Homo sapiens: one gene and its partner. The protein of the gene in region 2 interacts with the protein of the main gene of each other region in a pairwise test. Each region holds a gene or a part of one and is shown on either strand. Other genes may lie near its edges. The genes, in order: GALNT7 and COL5A1.

Region 1 (3,911 bases), on a different chromosome or scaffold from region 2:
CATCTTAAGTCCAGATGTGCTCAGACTTATGACAGGGTTACACACCGATAAACCCATTGAAAAGTCAAAAATCGTAAGCTGAATCATGGTAAGTCAGGGACCATCTATATTGTCTTCAGTGTTTATCTGAAATTACCCAGCTAGCGTCTACATATCCACCTTTTAATGTAGCCCATGTGTACTTGTCTGTGTTGTTAAAAACTGTAGTGCAAGATCAGAGAGCACAGCTCTGAAGTTAGAACACCTGAGATTGAATCCTGGCTCTACAATTAATTAAGTGAATAAACTTGGACAAAGAGTTCACCTCTCTATACCACAACAGTCTCATCTATAAAGTTGGGATTCCATCGGACTTGCAATAGAGGGTGGTTGTTACAAATAAACAACCAAATACATGTAGAATATGTATTAGGCCCAAAGTAAGGATTCAATATATGTAAACTATTATTGTTGCTGTTATTACTGAAATCTTTAATTTAGTTACTTTTCAGATTGTACATTCATTCTTCAGGAATGAGAATCGAAATTCAAAATATGAACAAAGACAATTATCTAGTTAGGAGCTGAATAATCACAGTCATTTTCCTTCATTCAATAGCTACTCAAATCTTGCTGACCAACTTTTTTAATAACTCAAGTTAGAATTTCCACATATTCTGTTTACAGATGGCTCAAGCTCAGAATTTTGCTTTTCATTCGTGAATTATTTTCTCTCTTCCTCTTTCTCCAATTTACTATTGTCTAACAGTTTATACAGGAACCCAAATCGTATCTCACACGTTATCTCCCATCCCATGCAACCAGCCTAAGTCACAAAATAGACTGCTGTTCAAAAGTTTTCATTCTCTCTTTACTAGTAACTGTGCATTCCCCAAAGGCCATTTTAAGCCTTCTCCACCTACTGGTTTGACTACTGATGAAACATATCCTTGTGACAGTTCTTGTATTATTTCTTTACATTGCTACTGGATTAAGCAATAGCTCTCCCCACCCCCAACTAGATTGTGAGAGCAGGAACTCCCACTTCAGGTGTTATCAGTATTCTTCATGAGGTCTTAGGGAGGGGAGGATGGGGATGGGGGAGGGGCAAGCAGGTGGTAACAGGGCTGATGCCTGACCTCACATAGACCACTGGATGGAAAACTTTTCCACAGAAGTGATAAATACAACAATTCTTAGGAATTCGCCAAACATTTCCGAAATGTTCAGACCTATGTGGGAGACATAAATGGATGTACCTTAGTTTCTTTGAAAAATATTTAATATGTGCCTTCCATAAAATTAGCACCAGGAAAGATGGAGGAAATACTCAACAAACAGGAAACATGAACCCTGCCTTCAAAGGGCACATGGTCAGTGGCTGGAAGCCTTGTTTGGTTTAGAGGACACTTTAGGAAACATGAAAGCTTCTGATTATCAACCTAGAAAAAAATGTAGATGTATGCAAAAGTTCTGCATTAATTTCAGGAAGTCTATAAACCCCAGACTTCTCAGACTTGGTGATGTGATATTTTTAATCATTATTATGTGTGGGGGGAGAAGGGGGATGGGACACTGAAAACAGCAAAGGAAACAAAAACCAATCCTAAGGTGTATAGCCTGGGAAACTGAGAGAACAGTGACCACTTAAGACACTACACTTTCACTAAGTGATAGCTCCATCCCTAATAGTATAAACAGAGCTTCCATTTGAAGTACAATCTCATGTTCAAGGGCAGAATTTTTCAGGTTACAACTGATCATCACTGAGATAAAATGGCTTTGGTAAGGTGGAACTTGACTGCCAGGGTAATCAGTTCAGCCACTAATCCTCATTTAAGCTATATTCCTTTCAAACCTGTTAGCTTGCCTATCACATAAAACCTCTTGGCCTACTAGTTCCTGAATTAGTCCTATTATATACACCCTGAACCTAAGTGGCATTAATGACTTGACTAAAGTTGCATTTGCATATCCAGAGAGTCATTAGTTTACACACAGCTTCTCACCAGTACTGAATGTTTTAATGCAGGGGTCCCCAACCCTGGGTCATGGAGCATAAACCCTATTGTGAACTGCATGCAAGGGATCCGGGTTGCACACTCCTTATGAGAATCTAATACCTAATGATCTGAGGCGGAACAGTTTCATCCCCAAACCATCCCCCACCCAACCCAACTCCCCCAGTCTGTGGAATAATTGTCTTTGACAAAACCAGTCCCTGGTGCTAAAAAGGTGGGGGACTGCTGTTTTAATGGATCTGTCAACATTTCCTTTAAAAACCTTTATTTTCAGAGGCTTATGGGTCAACTGTAGACAGTCACTCAGGGCTAAAACCTGGGATAAATGGTGTTAGTCTGGGACATAATTTATTTAATTAAAGGAACTTTCTGTGCTTTGCAAGTCCAAGCAGATAATCTTAATAAATGCTGACCTTAAAATATCCAGAGGGCAAAGACTAAAAAAAAAAAAGCTTCCCATAATCATAAAATACAATACAAGAAGGTATACATTTTGCTTTGAGAACTTTCCATAATGAAACAAATAATCTATCATCCTAGGCCTCCTGACACCTTCACTACCATATCCAATAGCCAAATCCTGATGCCTTTGCATCTTTAGGAGCTCTTGAATCAATTTATTTTTTTCTATCTCTACCACCGCCCTGCCAATCTAAGCAAGGATTATGTCCCACCTGAATAATGATGACCCCCACCAGGACTCCTGCTACCTGTTCTATAGACAAATACATACTTTCTGTAGGCAGCCAGAGTGATCTTTTCAAAACACAAATCCACTCTTCCCTACTTAAAATCTTTCAACGGCTTCTCACCGCACTTAAGATCTCCTCCTTAGCATGGACTACGAGACCCATGCTTTCCTGTGTGGCATCATTCTACTTGTCATTCTCCACGTTCCAACAATATTTATCTCCTAGTTTCTCACTATTTCACTCATGCTACCTCCTGCCTCAGGACCTTTGCCCAAATGCTCCTTCTCAAGAATGCTGCCACCCACTTCCAGATTAACTACTTTTCTTGAAATGTTCAGATTTCGCCTCAAAAGTCAGAGTAGGCAGCTAGGCAGACATGAGCAGGGCAGGAAAGGCCCCCCACCACCAGGAATGTCAGGCGGCCATCAGGTGATGGTCAGGCCGTTGTTAAACTGTCTCTCTGAAATAATAATTGGTCGCGCCAACACCATGGAAAGGCAGTCTCCCATTAGATAGAAAACACCTAAAGCTGGTTATCAGCAGGTTCCCACTAAGATCTCAGGAGTTGGGCAAGTGGGCTCCAGCATGTGCACTAATAGGCAAAATGGCAGCTTTTAACTAGTATATGCCCTTCCTCTAGGAAGGCTCAAATTGTAAGGGAAAAATGCCTCAAGTGAGCATGAGTAAAACTTCAGTAAACACACTGCAGGCAGCCCCTCCCCGCTGCTGGCAGGCCACTGCGCATGCAGACAGCCCACCCCAAGGGAAGAATCACGGGAGAAGAAACGCAAACCCTGGAATCATGCCAATGTATAAAACCCCAAGTCCAGGGTCAGACGAGGTACTTGGATTTCTCAAGTAGCCCACATGGCCTTCTTCAAAGTGTACTTCCTTCCGTTCCTGCTCTAAAGCTTTTTAATACTCTCACTCCTGCTCAAAAATTTGCCTCGGTCTCTCACTCTGCCTTATGCCCCTCCAATAAATTCTTTCCCACAGGAGGTAAGAATCGAGTTGCTTCAGACCTGTGTGGATTTGCTACTGCTAATAGTCATTTCTTCAAGTAAGGCTTTTATGACCAAATTCCTCCATTTTCTTGCCCCCTATGGTTTTCACTATGAAAGCAGTAGCACAATTTTTATTTATATATTTATCGAGGTTTGATTGCTGTGTGGTTTTTACAAGATCCATGAGATTAAGGACAAGGAGTATTTCCTTAACA
Region 2 (3,911 bases):
TTGCTTTCTCAATTCCCTCGGAGCTAGCCAGAGCCCCCGTCCCGCTTTCTGGGCTTCAAGGGCTACTTACCGGGGGGCCTGGGGGTCCTGGGTGGCCTGCCTCACCCTTCGGGCCAGTTGGACCCTGGGGAGAAAGAAAAGAATCAACCCTTGGTCACAGAGGTATGAGGGGACTTTGAATCCACCTTCAGCTCTAGAATGGTCCCTGGAGACCTATGTGGGGGAGGTGGCCCTATCAGCCACAGCAGAGAAGAGAATGGCAGAGACCCCTGTACCCTCCTGGATCCTTGAGATGAGAACAGAGAGGGATGGAGCCCTTCCTAGGGCAGGCGGCGAGCAGCCCACCTGCCTCAGTCCGCCATGGGTCAGTGTAGAAAGATGGGAGGATCGTGAGCAGCAGGGCCTGAGCTAGGACGGTTGTCTGGGTAGTTTGTTCCCGTGCCAGGGGACCCGTCGCCCTCCCCTACCTTCCAGGCATTGGCCTGGCTGGGCAGCATGTTACTTACCGAGGAGCCCTTAGCACCTTTTGGACCAGGCGGACCCTGCAGAGAGAGGAGGGCAGAACGTCAGCAAGCCGGGTCTCAGCTCCAGCCCCACCGTGCTCCATGTCCTGCCCAGCCTGGTCTCGCCCCTCGCCCCTCTCCCACCCGCATCCCCCTCAAGAGTCTATGCTTGTATTTGCCCGGCTAGAGTGGGAGGAGGGTCGGGGCCTGGCTGGTGCTCACCCCTCGTGGAGACACAGGGTGGTCCTACCTGCCCCCGGCCAGCCTACCACCCACCCTGGCTAGGAAACCCCAGCTCAGACAGCCGCGGGGGGGGCGCAGCGGAAAAGAGCATGTCCTGGCTCAGAAGGGGCTGATGGAATGCACCCCCCAGCCCTGATAGCACACAGCAGGGGCCAGCCCTCAGCGTGCCAGGGGCCCCCGGGGGCCATGTGTACCTGCAGCCCAGCGGCTGTGGGGATGCCCTGGGAATGCTGGGTCTCCCAGCAATGTGAGACCCAGGCAGCGGTGCCAGAGGAGGGCAGCTAACTGCTCTTGTCTGGGCCAGGCTGGCCGGGCTCCTGGGAATTGGGAGGGCTGGAGAGCCAACTACTACCTTCCGCACCCTCCCCAGATGCCTACAGACAAGTGGCCTCGTTCCCTGAAATGGCCACCGTTTCCTGTCCCTGTCTTCCCCACCAAAAACCATGGCCGGGCAACGCCACTTCCTTTCTTCTGTCTCCTGGAACCCCAATGTTGAGTTAATGGGCAAATCCACCCTGGAGGCCCCAATTCCAGCTTCTCGTGTGACTTTTCCACAATTCTCTAGCTCCACACTGAGGCCCCAAGGCTTATCCCCACCCTCCCTGCCCTCCCAGGAATGACCAAGCCCCTCCCAGATACACACCGGCAGGCCAGGGGGCCCAGGAGGCCCAATCGGGCCAGAAGGACCAGTGATACCCTGAAAAGGACCAGAAAATGCAGGTTATCACCTTCAGACGAGGAGGAGCTGCGGGGCTGCAACCCTGCTACCCAGCCACACCCCTCGGCTCCCCTGTCCCTTCCCCACGGTATGCCCTTTGGCCCCTCAGCAGCCTCCTGTGGCTGCTTTCTGATCCTGGGCTGTGCATGTCAGGGGAGCCATCGACCTGAGCATCCACCCCAAGGCTGCCAGCCCTCGGCACTGCTCCCCCGGCTGGGCTGCCAGGAACTCACTCTCATCCCCCAGGCCACCGAGGACTTCAGGCTGAGCACCTCTTTTCACGTTCATTTGGAAATACAGAAACCACTGCCCTGACATTGTGGCCCTGGCTTGGGCCCCTCTTGCTGTTTCCTGCTCATGGTGTTAGTCTCCCCTCTAGAACTAAGCCCGGAGGGGTTGGGCAGGGAGTCCCATCCATGCTGACTGTCCTGTCCTGCCTGTAAATGTGCTTTCTGCATCCTTGGAGCGTGGAACCTCCGCTCAGACCCCTTCTCCCCACTGACTCCCTCCCAGACTGAGCTGCTGGCACAGAACAGCTTTGACCAGCTTTGCCACGGGCAGCTGGAGCCACCTGCAGCCTCTCTCCCTACAGCCCTGGATTCCACTCAGAGCTCTCTCCGGGCAGAAGCTGGGGGCGAGGGTAGCGGAGGGCTGATGGCCGTATTTCACTGGGGAGGGAGCGCTTCCCTCCCTTCACCTTGTCCCTGCAGGAACTTGGGCTGTGGCTCATTGTAAGGACCCCACAACTACCCAAGCCTGCACACCAACCCGACACCTTCATCAGCAATGCCGCCAAGACCATGGTTTGGGGTGAGGGCAGGTGAGCAAACAGGGTGGACACAGGGGTGCTTTCCCCGCTGGCCGTGGGGACCCTGGATGCCTCTCTAATTCTCGTGGTTGCCGGGCCACCACACCCTGGGCGGCACTCCTCCGACGACCCTGCTGTGGCCTGGGGATACCGGCAGAGGAAAACAGTCAATGGCATGGAGGACACTGGCCAGTGAGGTAGGGTTTGCAATGAGCTCCACCCTTCAGCCATGTCCTGCAACCTTCCCCGGGCCCATAGTGAGGGTGCCACCTTACTCCCAGCCTCCAGGGGCTCTGCCTGCTCCTGCCCTGTCCCCCGCATCCTATGAGGCATGGGCGTGGGTGGGCACAGCATACTGTGCGTGTGTGTGTCCGTCACACCTTGCTCGGGACGGAAAGATTCCCACACAGGAATAAGGACCCGTGGCCCTCATGGGGGAAGGACAGAGGCACTACAGGTCACCTCATCCCCTCTCCTGCCTCCATGGCACACGTCACCCTCCCCAGGCCACTTCCAAGTCACTCAGAGTTGTGGGACAGAGTGAAGCTCTCTGCATGGCGTTTCCTTGGCTATGGTTTGCAGAGGCTGCAAACTCCAATGAGCTACAGTTTGGGGGCAGCTGGGGACAAGGTGGAAGCAGGAGCCAGAACAGCCACTCTGCCCGCAGCTCTGGCAAACACGGCTGGTTGTCACCAGTGACCTCCTGGGCAAGCGGTGGGTGACAGGCTCTCCCACAGGGCTGGGAACCAGGCAGAATGACCTGACTTCCGAGTCCCTCCAGCTCTGGGGGACACCACGGTCATGAGGAGGAAGCCCCGCCTGCCAGTCAGGGCATGGAGCTGGGAGACGGCTCTGCCCAGCTCACTGTGCACCTGGGCAAGCCCAGCCCGTCAGTGTTCCCATCTGCCAAGCAGGATGACCGGACTCAACCGACGTGTGGACGTCCTTCCGGGCTCTGATGGGCCTCCTGTCCCCTGGGTGCCTGCCCCAGGGATCTAAAATGCCTCTCGACAGCCCACATGCAAGAAGTGCCATCTCACGCACCTGTTCTCCCTTAGGACCGGAGGAGCCCTGGGGGCCAGGGAGACCACGGTCGCCCTTCTCACCCTGTTCACCCGGAGGACCGATGAGCCCGATCAGGCCTGGATGACCCTGTGGGAAAATGAAGACAGGAAGGGGCATTTGAGGGAGCCACGCCTCATGCTCGGCCACGGTGGGCCAGTTAGCACGCAGCACAGCCATGGCACAGGAAGCTTTACATCATGGTCAGCCTCCCCTGGAAGGGGAACAGGCTCAACAGAGGGGCCAGGTGACGAAACGGCAGGTCCGAGGTGGCCCTTCGCTGGCCACAGTCACGTCTAAAAACAGACAGGGAGCCACAGACACTGAGACAGACCAAAGTGATAAAGGGGTTTTCCTGAGTGGTAATGTTTATCTCTGTCTTTCTCTTCGTATACGCTCTCCAATTTCCTATGGCAAATCCGAACGCCTGCTCCTATACGGAACTAAAACAAAGTTTGTGGACTGACACGGAAAGAAAGATGCAGAGTATTATAGATATTACAATCATGGGTTGTTTTTCTAAAAAAAGAAGAATCCATGACACTCGCTGTCTATGTTTGTCTTCTAGGAACCCAGG

Evidence for each region.
Region 1: the proteins of COL5A1 (region 2) and GALNT7 interact in a two-hybrid assay, tested with the Homo sapiens proteins (one study listed by IntAct).

Annotation. Positions count from the first base shown.
Region 1 is NC_000004.12:173,171,784-173,175,694, reverse strand, and holds part of GALNT7 (N-acetylgalactosaminyltransferase 7), read right to left. Parts: intron 1-3,911. UniProt on the Homo sapiens protein: Glycopeptide transferase involved in O-linked oligosaccharide biosynthesis, which catalyzes the transfer of an N-acetyl-D-galactosamine residue to an already glycosylated peptide.
Region 2 is NC_000009.12:134,819,629-134,823,539, reverse strand, and holds part of COL5A1 (collagen alpha-1(V) chain isoform 1 preproprotein), read right to left. Parts: exon of another isoform or gene 3,425-3,911; coding exon 3,317-3,424; intron 1,444-3,316; coding exon 1,390-1,443; intron 543-1,389; coding exon 507-542; intron 125-506; coding exon 71-124; intron 1-70. UniProt on the Homo sapiens protein: Type V collagen is a member of group I collagen (fibrillar forming collagen). It is a minor connective tissue component of nearly ubiquitous distribution. Type V collagen binds to DNA, heparan sulfate, thrombospondin, heparin, and insulin.